Linked DNA regions of Homo sapiens. The gene in region 2 interacts genetically with the main gene of each other region. Each region holds a gene or a part of one and is shown on either strand. Other genes may lie near its edges.

Region 1 (3,184 bases), on a different chromosome or scaffold from region 2:
ATTCTGTGATTATGGATGTCAACTTATCTCAGAGCAGTATCATTGGTTGAGCAGTCCTGCAGGACATCTAAGTTTACCGTCTTTATCTTGCCATTGTCAAAGATCCTGGACCTATTTTTTTCTGCCTTGAAAACTTTTGTGCAGTAAAACCAGCAATGGATTTTAGCAGAGTTGATGCATCATTAGGATTTTCACATTAACTCTTTGGACTTAGAGCCATGTCTAAAGTGTCCTTCTTTTGGATATAGTGCCTGGTGCAGAACTCTACCACAAAACATCAGGTGTGCCTCTGAATAGTCTTTGCAAGAAGCACAAAATCCTAGAATTGAGGTGAATTTGTAAGTTCCTCTAGTCCAACCACCTTTCAAATGAAAGAATCCTTCCAAAGCACCCCTGGCCAATAGCTCATCAAGATTTTGCTTAGATATTCTTATTGAGGGGGAACTTACTAACTCCTTTAATTCTTATTTTGCTTAAGGCTGAGTTTTTAAAACATCTAACATCAGCCAAGATTATTGATTTATCTATAAGGAATAATCTGTGAATTAACCTTCTGTAGCTTTTCCTTGCTGACCAGGGAATACCTCCCCATTGAAGCCTAGGCCAGATTCCAGTCCGTTTTGACCATACCCCATCATGGTATTTTAGAGTACACCTGAATAAGATACATGGTGCCATGTACATGGAAACTGACTGCTCTCATGTTACGGGTTGAACTGTGTCCCCCCAAAATTTGTATGTTGAAGTCCTAAAATTGGCACTGTTGCCATAAGCCAGGGAACTACCTAGGAGATGCTAGGAGAGAGGCCTAGAATGGAACCCTCCCTCCCCCGCCCCTGGGGCCTTCAGAGGGAGCGGTGCCCAGCTGACACCTTGACCTTGGACTTCTAGCCTCCAAACTGTGAGACAATACATTTCTGTTGCTTAAGCCACTCAGTTAGTGTGCTTTATTTTGGCAGTCTTAGCAAACTAATACATCCCCCAATCCAGAACTGTCCTCCTTTGGATAATAAAAACAGCAATAATTATAGTGTCATTACCCTGAGTGACTGGTCCCACTGTTGGTCATTCTTTGTAGATGTGAGTTATTGCCCTATTGAGATCAGAAGTCCTCTCACTTAGAGGCATATCTAAGACTTTTTTCTTGTGGAGGGAGCTCACTCAACTGTAGGTAAGGTTTGACTCATCTGGGTTAGTAGTAAGAACAAACTTCCAAGTGGCACCATCTTAAAGGTGCAAGCCCATGTGGGCGATGACCAGGTCTGGTATATTAAGAGGCTCTTGGTAGCACATTAGAAACACCTGGAGAGATTTTAAAATTTACAAAGCCTAGCCAAACCCCAGACCCATTAACCCTGACTCTCTGAGAATAGGACCCTGGCACCTGTGTTTTAAGGATTCTAGGTGATTTCAATGTGTAGCCAAGGTTCACTGCCATAGCCTGTCCTGGAATGCAGGTAACTAAAACTTCAGCAGATTATGAAAAACAAAAGTTACTTTCTTGGATGCATATATTCTTATAGCCTCAAAACTGAAACTGCAAACTGAACAATGCTGCAGTCAGATACACACACATATTTCAACTGCATAACTTCCTTTAATAATACTTTTATTTTTCCAAATTTGAAGACTGTCCCTAAGTCATTTCTTCTAAAAGTTAGTAATAATCCCACCAACTCACATTTACATAGAAGTTACAGTTTAAAGTTTGCATCTCGTAATAACTTGGTGAGATAGGGCAAGCATTATTTCTAATTTGCATATGAGAAAAAACTAAGGCTCGGATGAGTTATGTGACTTCCCTGAGTCATGTTAGAGTAACTAACTCCTGATTTGTAAACTGAAGGTCCCAAATCCTGGGAACTCCCTCAGCTCTGGGCAAGCCAGGACAGGTAGGTCACCCTGCACCTACACAAGGACTGAGCTGAGTTCTAGTTACCTGCTGTGAAGGACTGTAGAGGTTATCTAAGCCAGCTCCTCCTTTTACTGGAAAAGGAAAAGACTGAGATAAGTTTCCAAAACCCCTGCTGGAGCACCTTCTACTTCTAGAAAGATGTTGAGGGGCTTCCAGGGCACAAAGGAAAGAGAAGTAACTGTGTCTCCTTCCCCAACCATGTATGTGATACATTCATTCTCTAGGATTGGAAATTCCCAGAAAGCTGTGTCAGCAATGAGATTTGTTTCATTGTTTTGCCTTGTTTTGTCATTGAGTTGTTATAGTTAAAGTTTATTATTTTTTAATGCAGAAAAAAGTGACTTTTGGGGGAGTGCAGAGTTCTATGAATTTTTAACACATGTCTAGTTATTTGACCACAACCGTAATCAAGATACAGAACAGTTTTATCATTTCAAGTGCTCTCCTGCTATGCTTTTATAACACACCCTTCCCCACCCCAACTCCTGGCAATTACTGCTCTATTCTCCGTAACTGTAGTTTTGCCTTTTCGAGAATATCATATAAATAATCATGTATTATGTAACATTCTGAGACAGGCTTCTTTCACCCAGCATAATGCCTTTGAGATTCATCCAGATCGTTGTGTGTATCAGTAGTTTGTTTTTATTACTGGGTTATAGTTCATTGTATGGATATACCACAGTTTCTTTAGCCATTCACCCACTGAAAGTCATTTGGGTTGTTTCTAGGCTTTGGTGATTATGAATAAAGCTGCTATCAACATCCACGTATTGGTTTTTGTGTGAACATAAGTATTCATTTCTCTAGATGAAATACCCACAAGTAGGATTTCTTGATTTTGTGATATATATGTTTTCTATTGTTGCCCTTTAAAATTACATGAATTTAGTGACTTAAGCATTACAAATTTATTATCTTACAGTTTTGTAGGTCAGAAAGGTCTTAATGGGCTAAATTCAAATTATCAGCAGGGTTGTATTTCTTTCTGGTGGCCGTCAGAGAGAATCCATTTAGGTTCAGTTCCTTGAGGTCATAGAACTTGCCTTTTGACCCCCTTTATCCACCTGCAAAGCCAGCAATGGCCAGTCAAGTCCAGTCCCTTCATGTACATCTCTTTCTAACCCTTCTCTCATCCTCTCTGAACTTTCTTCCATTGTCATATCTCTCTCTCTGACCCAACCATGAAAGGTTATCTGCTTCTAAGAATTCTTGCTTAGATTGGGTTCACCATGATAAAATTCAGGATAATTTCACCATTTCAAAGTT
Region 2 (3,500 bases):
TAGCCTCAGGCAGCCCTTAGGAGATATTTCAAAAGAAGGCATTGTTATCATAAGAGATGACAGCTTCATGTGTGTTACTGCCCCTGAAGAAGACCTTCCAGTGGGACAAAATGTGGAGGTGGAAGACAATGATCATTGATGATCCTGACCCTGTGTAGGCCGAGGCTAATGTGTGTTTGGGTCTTAGCTTTCAACAAAAAAAGTTTAAAAAGTAAATAAAAAATTTTTAAAATAGAAAAAGGCCTATAGAATAGGGATATAAAGAAGAAAATATTTTTGTACAGCTGTACAATTTTTTGTGTTTTAAGCTGTGTTATTACAAAAGAGCCAAAAAGTTATAAAATTGAAAATACAGTTAAAGTAAGCTGTTTATTATTGAAGAAAGAAAAACATTTTAAAATAAATTTAGTGTTGCCTGAGTATCCAGTGTTGATAAAGTCTACAGTAGTGTACAGTAACATCCTAGGGCCTTCACATTTCACTCACCGCTCACTCACTGACTCAGCCAGAGCAACTTTCAGTACTGAAAGCCCCATTCGTGGTAAGTGCCCTATACATGTGTACCATTTTTAATCTTTTTTATACAGTATTTTTACTGTATCTTTTCTCTTTTTAGATGTTTAAATACACAAATACCGTTGTGTTACAGTTGCCTACAGTATTGAGTACAGTAACAATGATGTACAGGTTTGTAGCCTAGGAGCATAGACTATACCATCTAGGTTTGTGTGAGTATACTCTGTGATGTTCACACAGTGAAGTCACCTAACAATGCATTTCTCAAAATATGTCCCTGTCATTAAGTGATCCATGACCGCAGTTGGGAGAAGTTTCCTCTGTTTTCTGAAGGAGTTTATATATACGTGTATATTTTTCAAATGTTTAATAAAATTTACCAGTGAATCCAGGGCTGGATTTTATTTGTGGGAAAGGTTTTTATTGTGAATTTGATTTAACTAGAGCTGTTCAAATTCTCTAGTTCTTCTTGGATCAGTTTTGACTGAGTTGTGTTTTTAAAACTCAGTCAAAATTTGATCTAAATTGTTGAGTTTATTGGCATAAACCCGTTCATTATATAACTTTATTCTTCGAGTTTGTAGAACCTGTACTCGATACAGATTTCTTTACTGTTTCATTCCTGATTGATAATTTATATTTTTCTGTTTTCAAAATGGGTTTTATAAAAGGCTTATTAATAAAATTAATCTCCCAAAAATAACAACTTTGGCTTTGTTAATTTTCTCTTATTTTTTATCTCACTGATTTCTGCTCTTATCTTTATTGTTTCCTTTTACTTTGGGTTTAATTGTTCTTTTTCTAGTTCAAGGTAGAAAGGAAAGTTGGTATTTAAAGTTATATAGGACATAAGGTACTTGATGGCAAAGATTATGTCTTGTATATATTTGTTTCTCTAACATTCAGTAGGCCTTTGATAAATTACTTGTTGGTTGCATGAGGAGTGTGATGGAGTATCCATTCATCCAGAGGAGCTAAATAATGTCATGATGGAGTCTAGGATTTTTTTTATTATTATTATGTCATTAGAATCACCTTAAAAGGATATCTCTGCCTTTGCTCATATTGTTCTTTCTCTTTAAAATATGTTTCCCCTTTCTACATGATGAACTTCTACTTAGCTTTTAAGTTTTCCAAATATGAATTATATTCCATAACATTTTATTTGTCCAGTTAAATCTACCACATTGCCTTATAGCCAGTGGTGTTTGCCAGAGCTTCTTGAAAACAGTATTTTCTTCTGTATTGTTGCATTCTCAATGGCTAGCAAAGAGCCTTGTATGTATGTAGTAGCTGCTTATTTAATGCTTGTTGGATAATTGAAAGGCCAATCAGGGAAGTAAGAAGGAATTTGGAAAGATTCTTGATAACCTGGTTGTAGCTTCCAGCAGTCTCTAGAGAACTCTAGAACTTTTTTATTCAAGTCACCTCATGAAGTGACTTAGTTGTGGTCAGTTAGCAGAGTATCCTTAACAAGAGTCCTTCTTGGACTATTTGGCCGTCCTTTTCTACCCTCTGGAATTAAGACCACGAGTTATAAAGCAAAACCCATAAGAGCATGTGAATACTTACATTTTTGTTCTGTGTAACACGCTTAATTTATTTCTGGATGGCAACAGGGGGAAGCGAGTAGCATTATCTGATGATGAGACAAAGGAAACTGAAAACATGAGGAAAAAGAGGAGAAGAATCAAACTTCCTGAATCTGATAGCAGTGAAGATGAAGGTGGGCATTACCATTCATTTTGGGTTAGGGGGATCAATTTTACTTTCAATGTTCAAGGAGCTAAAAAAGTAATGGATTAAGGATCACAATGAGAGTAGTAATTCTAGCATTAAGAGACACCATAGCACCTCTTTCTGTTTGAAATCTGCATTAGCCTTTTGACTAGAACCATGATCTTTTGGAAATTTGTCAAAATAACACAGAAGGAAAGAGGATAAGAATTATTATTATACATATTATCTAAGACTTTTTCTTTTCTTTTCTTTTTTTTTTTTACTTTTAAGGGGAGGATATTCCTTTAGCTACCTTCATGTGAATCTTTTAAAAATTGTGACGTTCTAGGCAGCCAGGGTATTACTGGTGGTGGTCCACACAGGTAAAACTAGGGTTAACTGGAACAACCTACAGTGTCATTGTTAGAAGGGAATGACACTGTGGACCCTTCTAGTTTTAGGCTGTGGGCAATGTTGTAAGATAAGCAAACCTCATAAGGGCAAGAGTTTTACCGGGAACATTAATATGCTTTTAAAAAAATATCAAGTATTTTGAAGAGCCAAGATCTTGCCCCAAATTGTATAAAGTATATAGAAAAAGAAGGAGGCTAAAAAGAAAGTTAAATGGGTTGAACTGATATGCTGGACGACTCTACCTTGAAAAGCCCACTTTGAGACACAGTGGTGAAAAGTTTGAACTGCTCTAATCAATTGTCCATGAATTCATGGCATAATGGGTATAAAACATTTTAAGTAATGAGGGGAAATCTAGTCCAAAGGATTTCAGCATCACATAAAGATACAGAGACAAACACGAACAGATACTAAAAGGGAGAGTAAAGAAGAATAATGAATGCAAAAAAGGAACCTACTGAGCTATCAAAGGACAAACTTGTAAGATTCTGAAACTTGTAAGATTCTGCTTTTTCCAGAAACTACTCTAAGAGGAATTGAAAATGGTAAGAGAGGCTTCCGAAAAAAGGATATTAGCTCAACTATACAAGTGAGTGAAAAAAAAACAAATTATATATACAGTTGACAGTAATGCAAAAGAAATGAACAGACCCAAGAAATAGTAGCAGGAAGCTGAATCTGTGATAAAGGTGTAGCATCTTTGACACTTCTGTGGATTTAGATTCTACCATTCATGCTATGTGTTTAGAATTACAGCCTGTGATATCCTGTGAGAGGTACAATGTCCTTCCGTGGGTTTTAGTGGCTCTTTAGAATGGGTAGGAGTAAGACACGTGAGCATCCCAGAGAGG
Region 3 (3,500 bases), on a different chromosome or scaffold from region 2:
TCTGTTGACCAGCCCAGGTTGGAGTACAGATCAATCATGACTCGCTATAGCCTCAACTCCTTGGCCCAAGCAATCCTCCCACCTCAGCCTCCCAAGCAGCTGGGACCACAGGCATTCAATACCACATCTGGCTAATTTTTAAATTTGTGTAGAGCTGGTACCTCCCTATGTTGCCCACACTGGTCTCAAACTCCTGACTGGCCTCAAGCAATCCTCCTGCCTTGGCCTCCCAAAGTGCTGAGATTACAGGTGTGAACCACCACACCTAGCCTGAATTGTACACTTTAAAAGGGTGAATTTTACAGTATATGAATTATATCTCAAACAGCCGTTATAAACAACACTCCACACAATTACTATACGCATTCTGTTTCTACCATTTTAACACCAAAAAAACTACAGACAAAAATCTCAGGATAAAATACTGTCCTTCAAATTTAATAAATATGACTTCATGAAAAAATTCATTACATTGACTTTATTTTCACATTTCATCATAGACCAGGTGAGAACTTTGTCAAACACCACAGAGCCAATGGAACTGGACATTTAAAAGGGATGTTAGTTACTTTTCCTACTCAACTAAGTATCAAGCAGTTCAGATGAAGCAATATGCATCTGAAATCAATACTTGGAGGCATTAAAATGCAAGAACCAAAAGAAAACAACAGATAAAATATTAAATGTATTTGCAATTCAAATTAACCTTTTTTTTTTTTTTTTTTTTTTTGAGACAGAGTCTTGCTCTGTCGCCCAGGCTGGAGTGCAGTGGCACGATCTCAGCTCACTGCAACCGCCACCTCCTGGATTCAAGCAACTCTTCTGCCTCAGCTTCCCAAGTAGCTGGGACTACAGGCACGCGCCACCATGCCCAGCTAATTTTTGTATTTTTAGTAGAGATGGGGTTTCACCATATTGGCCAGGCTGGTCTCAAACTCCTGACCTCATGATCTGCCCACCTGGGCCTCCCAAAGTGCTGGGATACCAGGCATGAGCCACTGCGCCCGACCAAATAAACTTACTTTTTGAAGACGAAACAAAACACTCTACCTGCCCCAAACCAACTCTGCTCCAAGGATCCTCTTTGAGACCCAGTAGTATGAACAAAATGGCATCTAGCACTTGAATTCCAATTCTGTCTGGTACTAAACTGGTGAACTTGAGCAGGTGGCTTAACTAAATCTCTTTCCTTATCAGTATACTGAGGAAATAATAATAATACCCACCCTCACAAGATATTAGGGAAGTGTAAATGAGATCATGTAAAGCAATGCTACTCAAACCTTGGTCTTCAGACCACTGCCAATCCACAAACTATTAGCAGTCTGCATCAAGGTAAGTACAGAAAGAAAGCATTAGCACTTAGAACATCTTAGGGCAATTTGACAGGCAGTTTACAGTTTTGTTTTGAGACAGGGTCTCCCTCTGTCACCCAGGCTGGAATGCAGTGGCGTGATCTTGGCTCACTGTAACCTCTGCCTCCCGGGTTCAAACTATTATCGTGCCTCAGCCTCCCAAGTAGCTGGGATTACAGGCCTGTGCCACCATGCCAGGCTAATTTTTTTGTGTTTTGTAGTTGAGATGGGGTTTCGCCATGTTGCCTAGGCTGCTGAACTCCTGGCCTCAAGTGATCCACCCACCTCGGCCTCCCAAAGTGCTGGGATTACGGGCATGAGCCACTGCACCCAGCCAATGTTTGTTGAATCTAATGATGATAATAATAAAAAGCCTGTATTCTCTATGTCTTTTTAAATGTTATTTTTCTAGTAATTTTATTTTACAGAAGTGCTTTTAGAACACTACTGATCTGCAACAGCTTGAGGGAAAAATCTACCTGGTCCTTTACCAAGACAGTTTGAGAAGCAGTGATATTAAGCACTCTACCCAGTGCTGAGCACAAAGTAAGAATCCCTGGCTGGACATGGTGGCTCACGCCTGTAATACTAATACTTTGGGAGGTTGAGGTGGGAGGATCACTTGAGTCCAGGAGTTTGAGACCAGCCTGGGCAACATAGCGAAGCCCAGTCTCCACAAAAAATAAAACACAAAAATCAGCCGGGCATGCTGATGTACACCTTTAGTCCCAGCTACCCAGGAGGCTAAGGCAGGAGGATCACTTGAGCCCAGGAGGTTGAAGTTGCAACGAGCTGAAATTGTGCCACTGCACTCCAGCCTGGGTAACAGAGTGAGACCCTGTCTCAAAAGACAAATAAACAAAACAAACAGAACCCCTCCCCCGCCCCAAATATTAATTTCCTCTCCATCTGTCAGACTCTATAGTCAGTTACTAAATGCTTAGGGAGAACCTTCCTGGCAAAAGATAGCGTGCAGGTGCAATGGTAGCGCTAAAGAAATTTAAGAAATGTAGATGCAGAGGCCAGGCGCGGTGGCTCACGCCTGTAATCCCAGCACTTTGGGAAGCCAAGGCGGGTGGATCACAAAGTCAGGAGTTCATGACTAGTCTGGCCAACATGATGAAACCCCGTCTCTACTAAAACTAACAAAAAATTAGTCAGGTGTGGTGGCGGGTGCCTGTAATCCCAGCTCCTCGGGAGGCTGAGGCAGGAGAATCACTTGAACCAGGGAGGTGGAGGTTACAGTGAGTTGAGATCGTGCCACTGCACTCCAGCCTGGGCGACAGAGTGAGACTCCGTCTCAAAAAAAAAAAAAAAAAAAGAAATGTAGTTGCAGAAATAAAATCCACAAATATAGAACAAACAATGTAAAAGATAAGGCAGTACAAGCTCTAAATACGTGATACTGAAAAAAACTAAAAAACTAGTACTCTTTTCAGGTTAAAGTGGTCAAGGAGGTTTTGTCTGAGGAAGCATGATTAGAACTGGGCCTTTGAAAGCTGCATAGGATTAAGGCAGCTGGGAATAGGATGGGCATTTAAGCAGAGAACTGCCAGTGCAAAACCAAAGAGGGAGCCATTATGAATAGATGAGTCCAACAGGAAAGCAATGGAAAAGCAGCTGGAACCAGCTTTATGGGAAAAACCTCATCTTTGTCCATCAGTTCAAAGATTTAGAACCTAAGCCAGGGAGCCACTGAAGATTTCTGAGCTAGAAAACAAAATGATCAAACCAGGGTCACACATATCCTACTACTGTATCACTATATACATCAGTTTGGCCATTTTCCCGTGTGGCCTCTATCTCTTTTCCTTTCAGTGCACTCACCCTGCAAAAGACCATACATAACCTCAGATCAATGCAACCATCTGCTTCCTAGACTTCAATTCAAATCTAGGCCCAGATGTGCTGGAGAAAACCAAACGACCCTCTATAGTGATATAAGATAGATGATGTTGCGGGAAGTCAGGGACCCCGAATGGAGAGACCGGCTGAAGCCACAGCAGAAGAACATAAATTGTGAAGATTTCATGGACATTTATTAGTTCCCCAAATTAATACTTTCATAATTTATTACGCCTGTCTTTACTGCAATCTGTGAACATAAATTATGAAGATTTCATGGACATTTATCACTTCCCCAAT
Region 4 (3,977 bases), on a different chromosome or scaffold from region 2:
TTCAAGCAATTCTCCCTGCCTCAACCTCCCAAGTAGCTGGGATCACAGGTGCATGCCACCACACCCGGCTAATTTTTGTATTATTTAGTAGAGATAGGGTTTCACCATATTGGCCAGGCTGGTCTTGAACTCCCGACCTCAGGTGATCCGCCCGCCTCGGCCTCTCAAAGTGCTGGGGTTACAGGCGTGAGCCACCGTGCCCGGCCAAGATAAATATTTTAAAAGTTAGCTTAAATTACTATCATCCTCCATAAACAGGCCTTCCCAGCCCCGAGTGGTTAGAACTGCACGGGGTGGTGGTAGCAGCCACCATGGGCTAGGGGAGCTCAGGATGGGACATCAGCGTCTTCTAGGTCTCTGGCCTCCAGCCTTGCCCCTGAAGTCCGTCCTCCCACGCCAAACTTGTTTCAACAGCAAGTCCCCCAAACCCTGCTCACAACCCTCCCACGGGTCCCCAGCACCCACACCACAAAGCTGGGCAGCCTGGGTTGAGAAGGCAAGTGTTAAGAGTGACTTTCCCTCTCTGAGCCTCAGTTTCCCCGTCTCTAAAATGGGTTGATGGGGGAATACAGGGAGTTATCAAAGTTTTTGTTTTTTTTTAAAGCTTAACTCCCAAAATACATAGGTGTTCATTGGCAGGTGGTGGAGCATAACGATGACTCTCATAAGAAGGCTTTTCAGTTTCTGTCCCCGCGCCCGCCCTCTGCCCTCTGGAGCTGCCTGGCACCTAACACCTTCCCGGTTCCTCGCCTTTCGGGGACCTCGCTCCCCGGACACGCCTCTCCTCGGCCACGCCCCTGGCCACGCCAATGAAGCGCTACTTCCGACCTAGACCCGCTTCTTATTGGTCTCGCCTCGGCAGGCCCCTCCCTGCACAAGGTTCCTAGTTTGCCCTTGCCCCGCCCACAGTTTCTCAGGCCCCCTGAGGCGTGGGGACCCGCCTAGGGCTGCCTCCAGCACTGCCTGAAAGGAGACTCCGCCACCCTGGAGGCAACAATCCCACTGGAGTCAATCACGCGGTCCACATTTGCAGACGTAGTGGAAAGTCTGGGGTGTCGGAGTCCTTGCGGGCTGGGGCGACGGGATGGGTTGCTCTTTCCCGGCTCAGGCGCAAACGGGGCAGCCTGGAGAGCGCCGTGGGCGAGGAAGGCCCCCAGCGCAGGCTTCGGCTATTGGTGTTGGTGCCGCGGCCACTGGCCCAGCCGATGGGTCGGGACACACGCTCGCGCTCGCGGTCCGCGGGTCGCCGGGGCCGAAGGCGGCAGAGTCAGAGCGGGAGCCGAAGTCGGAGCAGGAGCCATGGGCGGCGAAACCGACGGCGCCGGGAGGACGAGGGACGGCGCAGACGGAGGCGGCGGAGCCGGGAGCGCAGGTGGGGTCGCTGCGGGAGCAGCGCTGGGGATCCGGCTCCTACCTCAGGAGCGCCCGACCGAGGGTTGGAGATCCCGGGGAACCGGGAAACCCCCGACTTACTCGGGGAGGGCTTCCTAGAGAAGGGGACAATTGACCACCGGTTGGAATTAACCTGGCAGCGGAAGGAAGGCGAGAGGCGTTCCAGGCAGGGGACCGGGCGGTTGGAGGGACAGCCCGGAGCCGGGTGAGCGAGGCGGCGGGGAGGTAACGAGAGATCAGATCATATCATATCGAGCCCTGTGTGCTCAGCACATTAGATCTTGGCTATTAGTCGGAGGGAAATGGAGAGTCTTGAGAGGAGTTTGGGTAGGGGAGTGACGTGGACTGACTTAACTCTGCATACTTTCTGGCTTTGAGGTGGAGAAGGGATGGAGCGGGGTAGGCAGGAGCGGCATCAGAGTAGGACGGCACAATTGTCCAGACAGTAGATGATGGCAGTCTCGATGGGAGGGAGGCTGTAGTCAACCACAGCGGGCAAAGTGCGTAGATTTCAGAGGGATTCTGGAAGTAGAGGAGACAACATTTGCTAATGGAGGTGGGCTGTGGGAGGGAAAAAGACTCGGTGTCAGCTGGCAGGACTCACAGCTGATTCCTAGTGCCTGAATCTCAGCTTCCCCATGGTCCTTTTCTTCTGGAGATGGGGCACTTGGTCGGATTTGCCTTGAGCCGGCTCCAGTACAGAGAAACCAAAATGGGGACAGGGACTGATTCCCAGACCGGGGCCCCAGTGCTGGCTCAGCCCCTTCGTGGCTGACACTCAGGCCAGTCTTGCCCCGCTCTGGGCCAAGTTCACTCATCGGTTGTTGGTTTTTTTGTTTGTTTGTTTTTGAGACGGAGTCTTGCTCTGTCGCCCAGGCTGGGGTGCAGTGGCACGATCTCGGCTGTTACCTCTGCCTCCTGGGTTCAAGCGATTCTTCAGCCTCAGCCTCCCCGGTAGCTGGGGTTACAGGTGCTTGTTGCCACACCCAGCTAATTTTTGAATTTTTTCGTAGAGCTGGGATTTCTCCATATTGGCCAGGCAGGTCTTGAACTCCTGGCCTCAAGTGATCTGCCCGCCTCGGCCTCCCAAAGTGCTGGGATTACAGGCGTGAGCCACCGCGCCTGCCCATAAGTCTTGTTAATGTCATCTTTGTGTTTTTTCGCCTACCATTTTCTGGTATTGGAATTATTCACAATAATTTGCCACTCTAGATATGTAATTAGAATTAATGTTCACGAAAATTCAGTTGAACTTGTGGCCAATATTTAAGGGCTCTGCAATGATTGGTTTCAACATAGTTTAGATTTTTTTGACATGAGCTTAATGGGTAGAGCATTTAACAAAATATTTGGCAGTTCTCTGTGTACAAAGACCCCTAAACGTGACTGAGCGCAGTGGCTCACATCTGTAATCCCAACACTTTGGGAGGCTGAGACAGGAGGCTTGCCTGAGCCCAGGAGTTCAAGACCAGCCTGGGCAACATAGCAAGACCCCTCTGTACAAAAAAATGTAAAGAGTTACCTGGGCGTGGTGGTGTGTGCCTGTAGTCCCCGCTACTCAGGAGGCTGAGGCGAGAGGATGGCTTGAGCCCAGGAGGTCAAGGCTGCAGTGAGCTCTGATCATGCACTCCAGCCTGTGTGACAGAGGGAGACTCTGTCTCTAATAAATAAAAATATAGACCTTGTCTCTAGTAGACTCTGTGTCTAGTAGACCTTGTCTCTAATAAATAAAATTAAAGGCCCCTGAACCACCCCTGAGGTTGTGCATCTTCCATTCCCTGCGCTCTACTCTGTTAACTCCTGTCCATCCTGTGGGACTAGTTCAAATACCACTTCCATCTAGGAAGCCCTCCCTTGACAGCCTAAATGTGTTCGGGTCCCCTGGTTCGTACCCTTATAATTCCTGCGCCACCAGCCCCAGCCACCTCCCTGCCCGCGCCTCCTCCCTCTCCCCCACACTCTGTCTCAGCCATACAGCCTCCTTGTTGTTCTTAGAATGTGGCAGGTCAGTGCCTGCCTCTAGGCCCTCGCTCTTGCTCTGCCTCGAGCACTCTCCCTCCGAATCCACCCATCGCTGCCTCCCCACTCCCTCCAGACCTTGGCTCAGTGTCAGCTCCTGAGAGAGCCCCTCTCTGACCTCGGCCCTGCAGCCCCAGCCCCTGTGCTCGGCATTGCTACTCTTTGTGGCTTCTGCCTCTGCCTAGTGTTGCGTGGTGTGTTTATTTGTTGATGTCTTCCTTGTTGGGGCCCACCAGAGGGTGAGCCCAGGAAGGCAGAAGCCATCGGTATTTGGGTCACTGCTGTGTCCCCAGAACCTAGAACAGTGCCTGCTCCCCCACGGGCACCCAGTAAGCATCTGTGGAGCAGATGACAGCTGCAGGCACTGAGCAGGCATCCATGGTCCTCTCCGCAGGTCAGATTCAGAGGAAGAGCGGTGGCAGCGCTCAGGGATGCGAAGCCGGAGCCCCCCGCGGCCCAAGTGGCACTCAAGAGATGGGTCCTCTCAGTCGGACTCAGGAGAGGAGCAGTCACGGGGCCAGTGGGCTCGCCGGCGACGGCGCGCACGCTCGTGGTCTCCTAGCTCC

The links. A genetic interaction does not mean that the proteins touch.
Region 1: changes in POLD3 (region 2) and STXBP4 together harm fitness less than expected from each alone (positive genetic interaction), as found in Homo sapiens cells (one large-scale study listed by BioGRID).
Region 3: changes in POLD3 (region 2) and TIMELESS together harm fitness more than expected from each alone (negative genetic interaction), as found in Homo sapiens cells (one large-scale study listed by BioGRID).
Region 4: changes in POLD3 (region 2) and CACTIN together harm fitness more than expected from each alone (negative genetic interaction), as found in Homo sapiens cells (one large-scale study listed by BioGRID).

The regions. Positions count from the first base shown.
Region 1 is NC_000017.11:55,170,949-55,174,132, forward strand, and holds the end of STXBP4 (syntaxin-binding protein 4), read left to right. Parts: 3' UTR 1-2,684; downstream 2,685-3,184. UniProt on the Homo sapiens protein: Plays a role in the translocation of transport vesicles from the cytoplasm to the plasma membrane. Inhibits the translocation of SLC2A4 from intracellular vesicles to the plasma membrane by STX4A binding and preventing the interaction between STX4A and VAMP2.
Region 2 is NC_000011.10:74,627,082-74,630,581, forward strand, and holds part of POLD3 (DNA polymerase delta subunit 3), read left to right. Parts: intron 1-2,133; coding exon of another isoform or gene 2,134-2,135; coding exon 2,136-2,242; intron 2,243-3,500. UniProt on the Homo sapiens protein: Accessory component of both the DNA polymerase delta complex and the DNA polymerase zeta complex.
Region 3 is NC_000012.12:56,439,427-56,442,926, forward strand, and holds part of TIMELESS (protein timeless homolog), read right to left. Parts: intron 1-3,500. UniProt on the Homo sapiens protein: Plays an important role in the control of DNA replication, maintenance of replication fork stability, maintenance of genome stability throughout normal DNA replication, DNA repair and in the regulation of the circadian clock.
Region 4 is NC_000019.10:3,623,991-3,627,967, reverse strand, and holds the start of CACTIN (splicing factor Cactin), read left to right. Parts: upstream 1-1,177; 5' UTR 1,178-1,205; coding exon 1,206-1,372; intron 1,373-3,805; coding exon 3,806-3,977. UniProt on the Homo sapiens protein: Plays a role in pre-mRNA splicing by facilitating excision of a subset of introns. Required for the splicing of CDCA5/Sororin, a regulator of sister chromatid cohesion. Involved in the regulation of innate immune response.